Homo sapiens: one gene and its partner. The protein of the gene in region 2 purifies or fractionates together with the protein of the main gene of each other region. This does not show direct contact. Each region holds a gene or a part of one and is shown on either strand. Other genes may lie near its edges.

Region 1 (3,500 bases), on a different chromosome or scaffold from region 2:
TCTCCAAGACCATCCTCACTTCTGACACCCACTGCGAGTTTGGGAGTCCCCGTGACCACCTTTAGGGTAAGAGTTCTCTAGAAGTACTACAGGACTCAGAAAAGGCTTTCTACAGCAGTACCCCCGAGCCAAAGGCCATGTGTTCCAAAACCCCCGGGAGGTGCCTGAAACCGGGGACAGTACCAAACCCTTCACTTGCTGTGTTTTTTCCTGTACATACATGCCTGTGATAATGTTTATAAATTCAGTACAGTAAGCGATTAATAAGGCTGGGCGCAGTGGCTCACACCTGTAATCCCAGCACTTTGGGAGGCCGAGGCAGGCAGATCACTTGAGGCCAGGAACTTGAGACCAGCCTGGCCAGTGTGGTGAAACCCTGCCTCTACTATAGATAGAAAAATTAGCCAGGCATGGTGGCATGCACATGTAATCCAAGTTACTCAGGAGGCTGAGTCAGGAGAATCTCTTGAACCTGGGAGGCGGAGGTTGCAGTGAGCCAAGATCGTGCCACTGCACTCCAGCCTGGACAAGAGTGAGACCCCATCTCAAAACAAGTAATAGTAATCATAATTGGACGATGACACTCTACTGCAATAAAAGTCATGTGAATGCGGTTTGCTTCCCCCTTCCCTCAATATTTTATTATACTGTCCCTCACATAACAGAAACCATGGGAAACAAAACCAGGGGGAAGGAAGAATGGCGGCACTCACAGCTGCGGTTTATTACAGTGGAAGAATACAGGTTAAAATCAGCCCGGGGAAGAGGCGTGTGGGGCAGGGCCCAGGAGCCACCAATGGAAGGACCAGGAGTCCTTCTATTTGCTTTAGGTTGGTTTGGGTTGGTTTGGTTTTTTGGGTTTTTGTTTTGTTTTTTGTTTTTTTTTTTTTTGGTTTTTTGGTTTTTGAGATGGAGTCCCACTCTGGTGTGAGCTTCCGGCTGTCCTCTCCCGTTGGGGTCATGTGGACAGCCCAGTGAGTGTTTCCCCATCGAGGATGTGTGGCTGTGTCTGTGGAGTGTTGACATCCAGGGAAGCTCACCTGAGCCTCGAGATCCAGAGATCTGATTGGGGGTTGGCCACAGAGACACAGCTGGCCCCACATGGCCAGCCTTAGTCTCCAGCCCTCCAGAGGTGGAGCGGGTGCTGTGCGGGCTTGGGTGTAAGGGATATTGGCCTGTAGTTTTGTTTTCTTGTGATATCTTTGGGCAATGCTGGCTTGATAAAATGTGTTGGGAAATGTTCCCTCCTATTTTTTTGGAAGACAGTGAAAAATTGGTGTTAATTCCTCTTTACATGTTTCATAGAATTCACAGTCAAGCTCTCTGCACCTGGGCTTTTCTTTGTGGCAAATTTTAAAGTTAACCATTTATGCCCAGTGTTCCATTATTGGAACACTAAGCTTGTGAGAGTTATTTATATCCTGCTGAAGGTCATTGCCAAGGTCTCATTTTTCACAAAAAAGATTTACAACCTCCAGCATAAATGGGTTAATCTCTGTACTTGTTACAGGTTTATTTTGATTTTGTTTCTTCTTGAGTCAGCTTTGGTAGTTTGTGTCTTTCTAGGAATTTGTCAGCTTCAATTAATTTATTTGATTTGTCGGCACGTGGTTTTTCATGGTATTGTAGGTAAAGCCGGATACTCCTTCGTTTTTCCTGTAAAGTCAGTAGTGATGTCTCCTCTTTCATTCCTGGTTTTAGTAATTTGAGTCTTCTCTCTTTGTTTCTTGTTGTATAGTCTAGCTAAAGGTTCTTCATACTTCTGGAATCTTCACAAGAAAAAGGAAAAGTTTTTCAATGTTGGGTCTTTTCAGAGAACAACTTTTGGTTTCATTTATTATCTCTGTGATTTTTCTCTGTTGAGTTTGTTTCTGCTCTCATGCTTTATTATTTCCTTCCATTTGCTTTAGGTTTGTTTGGGTTTTTTTGTTTTTGTTTTTGTTTTTTTTGAGACGGAGTCCTGCTCTGTCACCCAGGCTGGAGTGCAGTGGCACAGTCTCAGCTCACTGCAACCTCTGCCTCCCAGGTTCACATGATTCTCTTGCCGCAGCCTCCTGAGTAGCTGGGATTATAGGCGCACCACCACGCCCGGCTAATTTTTTTGTACTTTTAGTAGAGATGGGGTTTTGCCATGTTAGCCAGGCTGGTCTCAAACTCCTGACCTCAGGTGATCCGCCCACCTCGGCCTCCCAAAGTGCTGGGCTTACAGGTATGAGCCACCACACCCGGCCCCACTTGCTTTAGGTTTAGTTGACTCCTGTTGTCCAGGATCTTAAGACGAAAGGTCAGGTCACTGATTTGAGATCTTTCTTCTCTTGAGACAGGATCTCGCTCTCGGAAGTGGGAAGAGGTACTGGGGCAGGTGGGAATGTGAGTTCAGGAGCGGAGGCTGTGGCTGGTGGAAGGCGGCCAGCGGAGGAAATAGAATGCTATAAACCATAGAGGAGGAGGGGGAAGGCAGACGAGGGGTCACACCTGTCATGACATGAGCAGGAAGTCAGTACGATGCCCAAAGAGGATACGTTGAAGAGTTAGGATAACGCTGTTGTCTAATGACAGTGTAAAGTGGTTGCCGGGGAGGAGGGTCAGAGAACGAAATCTGTGGCTTTCATCATCAGGCCTGGTGTTCTGCTCAGCCTCTCTTAACCATACATTGCTTTGATAACTTTTAAACATTTTTGGTTATCTGTGGTCCTGGTTGTTGTCGGTTGCTAGGTCTAATGTCATAACTGTAATTACTTGCTATAATAAAGTGAGACAGGATGATATCCATTTGCTGTCTTTGTAAACGTGTGTCAATGGAAATCGTCACAGAATAATGGACAGTTTCTGCCAATTCTCTATTCTCTCTGGACTATACACAGAGAGATTAGAACAGTGAACCCCTAAGTCCCCATCACACAAGTGAATAAGATTCTGGTCTTCGTTGCTTCTCCATGTTGTGTTGTCGGGTTTGCAAGAGCATTTTAAGTCATCACGTCAGTCACGAACACTTCCCTGTGCCTCTCTGATGAGGACATCCGTGGTAACCTCCCCACTGGCGCTGTCACACCTGACAAGGTCAACAGCACTCCCCTCGCATCATGGAATGGGCAGTCTGTGTCCAGATGGCTCTAGTTGACCAAAAAGCAGCTTCTTACAGTTGACTTCTCCCCATTGACTTTGAACAGATTGTTATTATACGAAAGTCTCCTTTTTTCCACCATTTCATAACCTCTGGTTTGTTCTGTCTTCCCAGGCCATGAGTGCGGCTGTGTGCTTTATGATCGACGGTGGGTACGCGCCTTTGTCTGATTTCAGCCTAAGCTTTTTGTACTTTGCTGCATCCTATTCTTAAGTGATAAATATGTTTTGGGGGTTTCGGTTGTTTGGGGTTTTTTTGTTGGAGACGGGGTTTCACTCTTGGAGTGCAGTGGCATGATCATAGCTCACTGTAGCCTCGACCTCCTGGGTTCAAGTGATCTTCCCACCTTGGCCTCCTAAGTCGCTGGGACTGCCAG
Region 2 (4,026 bases):
AAATGCATTAGCAGCTTTTCAGCGAGCTTATTATGGTGTTAAACAGCAGCACTTTAGCAGTCCTGAAAATTAGCCTCTGTGTACTAAAAGCTCAACATTCCCAAAGCTGGGTAAGGGATAGAAGAAGGAAAATTGCCGTGGCGGGGGTGAGGGGTGTTAACCAGTTACAAAGTAAAGAGAAAGGAGGGGTGCTTTGAGTATTTTCCCCCTAATTTGAATACCTAAGTGGTAACTAATAAACAAAAATGATGCTGCATGCTGTGTTCTGCCCTGGGGGCTTTTTCCAATAATGAACTCATACCTGGACACCTTGTTTGATTGTGTAAGAATGCGAAGCTGGAGGGAAAAAGAACTCCTACATGTAAAAGTTCCCACTTTTTTCTCTAGCCTGCAATGACTAGCTGAAATGCAACCATGGATACTTACACTGATGGCGAGCACAGGCCCGGTTTTGTACATACAGTATCTGTCTGTCCCAGCACAGATGTCTTTTATGTCTTCTTCAGCTTCCTCAAACCCGAGCTCCTTGTGCATAAACAGTGCAAATGCTTTCATTCTGTTGGGGCTCCCACCGACACAGACAAACTGTTAATAAAAATAAACAAGGGCCTGCCATAGTAACTGGGATAAGAACCACGGGTCAGTTTCAACTCTAATGTTTTTATTTTACTTTTTAGTTAATTTACTTAAGAACACGTGTAGATGTCATGGTTTATGTTCCATGAATTAGCTAATTTGCATCATCAACCTGTAAATAAAGCAACAGATGCAAAGTTTTTTGCACTAAATTTGTAAAGAAAATCACAAAATCAAAATAAATGTTGATATTATTCAAGGAGGTGTTTCCTGGTGTTTTTGTTTATAGTGAACACCAACCAGCATCTTAAATTGACATAGACAGCCTATTGTTGAGCATTACCATGACATATGCTTAGGATGTAAGTTCTGAGGCCACGGCACGTGAGTGATGTAAGAGCAAAAGGAGAACCACCAGTTTTAGGTATGTTTTCTGATTCCCCATCCCCCATCATAAATTTGTATTGTGAAATGGAGTATGTGAACTTAAAATTTTAAAGGAATCATGTCAAGACTTTTAAATTTCTTATTCAGAAGAAATTCTCATGGAACAAGCCTTATTATTGTAAATGTGGGATCTCCCTGTGGCATTTCATCAATTCCAGTGATTTATTTTTGTTTTTGTTTTATTCACATTTTACCTTCTCTGAAATTAGGATAGGTGTTGCAGTCAACGGTGTCTAATAGAAGATGGTAATACAATTGTCTGGCAGTTACTCATACAACAGTCTGTTTAGGGGTACCCTAGCCCCAGGTACCAGGAGTGGGAGAGGTGGACGCCAGGGAGAGGAGCAGAGAAGCACTACGGGTCAGCAACAAGAGGGTGAGCAGTAGCAGACTCTCACACCCAGGAGGAAGCACAGGCCACAGCAAGGTGGCAAGAGTCAAGTCCTCCCGGATTCTGAAGTAAGTGGTGAGGAAAATGCAGAGAGAGAGAAGACAACATAGTGGAGGGTCTGCCCTTTGAGGTTAGGTAAACCTGGCTTTGAACTCCAACCCCATCAGTGAGTAAGAAACTTGCTCAGTGTCACACAAATAATCGATGTGCCTCAGAACATCTCCAAAATAGGAAAAACACAGTACCTCTCAGAGAGTTTTGAAAGAAGAACGTGAGATTGCATATGGCAAAGGACATTGCACAAGTCCAGACACGTTCTCAGTGATGTGCAAATGGTAACCATTATTTTTTATATCATGTAGCAATTTTCTATTCCTGCTTCTGAGCTTGTTACTTTTCCTGTATTGCAGAATTTAGTACACAGGAAGCTGGTTTGAGTCCTCTAGTGAGGAAAAGGCAGTTGGTGGTATCTGGCTGATGTAGGCAGCATTGGACAGAGGACTGGGAGGGCTGACAAGGTCCATCACAGGGATAAAGAATATCTGTCTAACGAAATACCTAACTGAGGTTATAGAATAGGCGGCCCCATTCACAAATGATTTACTCTAACTATTGGGTGGTCTGAGTACATGATGCATCTTGTTTCCATTTAGCAATAATTCCTGAGCTATTCTCTTTCTCAATTAGGGGTGTAATTAACCCTGTATCCACGCCCTCTGCTTCTCTTCTACCCTTAATATTGTCTTTTCTCTGCCTTCTTATGAGTTTCTCTGATGAAGCCTTAAGCTAGTAATGAACTGCAATAGAAGTCTGCCATAAAGACTGGTAGCAAAGAGGTTAAGACCATGGTTTCAGGTGAGTTTTAAACTAGTTATTGATAATTCTTAGAATTTTCTTCTTTGTTGGTATGGATAGTTAAGACTTGGCTCACGATCTAAGTCCAAGGAAATTTTTTAACACAGTACGGTAGTTTGAAAATAACCTCATTGTGTGGTGCCAGTGAATGTAAATTACAACTATTCAGATTGACCATAAAACCAAAACAGATGTTAGAATAGCTTGTGGTTTGAATTCTCCTTTGAACTGTAGATATTGCTATAATCGACAGGAATTTCTGAATATTTCTGGAGACATAAAGATCATATGCACAGACAGAAGCAGCTTGGTTCTTAAAGCCTTCCTTACTCCTAAACCAGACTCACTAAACACCACCTCTGGACACAATTTTCGGTCTGGCTGCTTTAATGAGAAGTAAAATATGGCTGAAGACCACCAACCAACATTGACCTTAAGTGACACTTACTGTGTTTATGTCTCAAACAAAATGATCAATTGTCCTGGTTTTATCAAAGAAGTTAGAAACACACTGGGAAGGAGTCAGAGGCATTACAAAAATATGTTAAGGATTTTGCCTAATGATTGCCAGAAAAAAACTCAGCTTTAGATATCCCTAGCATCTTAAAAGGCTTAACTATGCCATGTTGTATTAATCTGGTCTATTGCATTTTATGCATTTTCTGTGTTAACAAGGGAATATAAATACATTCAAAATGCATTGCATATTACTAAAATTTCTAGTGAGAGATTAGAGGATACCAGTTAGTGATTTTATAAAAGACATATTTAGATGTTGATTTTGAATAGATAACTTCCTTTTTTTTTTAGAGTTCAATTTATTTATTTTTATTTTATTGCTTGTGTTTTGGTATCTTACATAAGAAATCATTTCCTAATCCAAGGTCACAAAGATTTATGTCTATGTTTTCTTCTAACATTTTATAGAATTAAGCCTTACATTTAGGTCTTTCATCCATTTTGAGTTAATTTTTGAATATGGTGTGAGATAGGGATCTAACTTTATTCTTTAGCATGTGGATATCTAGTTGTCCCAGCACCATTTGAAGAGATGATTCTTTTCACAATAAATTGTCTTAGCATGCTTGTTGAAAATCAGTTGTACATAAAGGTGAGAGTTTATTTCTGGTCTCTTGGTTCTGTTCTAGTGATCTTTATGTCTATCCATATGTTAGTACCACACTGTCTTTATCATTATAACTTTGTAATAAGTTTTGAAGTTGGGAAGTGCGAGTCCTCCAACTTTTTTCTCCTTTGTAAAAACTATTTTGGCTATCCTGCATTCCAGGCATTTTGACGTGGATTTTATTAGAAGCTTGTCAAGTTCTGCAAAATAGGCAACTGGAATTTTAATGGGGACTGCATTGAATCTGTAGAATATTTTTGGTAGTATAGTTATCTTAACAATATTAAATCTTGCAATCCATAAGCATAGGATGTCTTCCCATTTACTTAGAGCTTTCAAAATTTCTTTCAATAATGCTTGTTGTTTTCAGAGTATAAGTTTGCACTTCTTTTGTTTATTTGATTCCTGTATATTCCTGTAAGGTCTATATGTCCCACTTCAAGTCGTACAACATTGATTAAAAGTAGATTTTTAAACATTAAATATGTTTACTGTAATCCTTAGAGCAACCACTAAAACAAATAAGCAGAGAAACAAAACTGAAACAAAACAAAGAGATATAGTCAAAATATAACAGATAAATAAAAATGGAATATTTAAAAAATGTTCAACTATCCCAAAAGAAAGCTGG

What was found. The genes of interacting proteins can lie anywhere in the genome.
Region 1: the proteins of UPP2 (region 2) and CCZ1B purify together in Homo sapiens (co-immunoprecipitation; one large-scale study listed by IntAct). This does not show direct contact.

The regions. Positions count from the first base shown.
Region 1 is NC_000007.14:6,805,776-6,809,275, reverse strand, and holds part of CCZ1B (vacuolar fusion protein CCZ1 homolog B), read left to right. Parts: intron 1-3,238; coding exon 3,239-3,272; intron 3,273-3,500.
Region 2 is NC_000002.12:158,111,660-158,115,685, reverse strand, and holds part of UPP2 (uridine phosphorylase 2), read right to left. Parts: intron 586-4,026; coding exon 427-585; intron 1-426. UniProt on the Homo sapiens protein: Catalyzes the reversible phosphorylytic cleavage of uridine to uracil and ribose-1-phosphate which can then be utilized as carbon and energy sources or in the rescue of pyrimidine bases for nucleotide synthesis.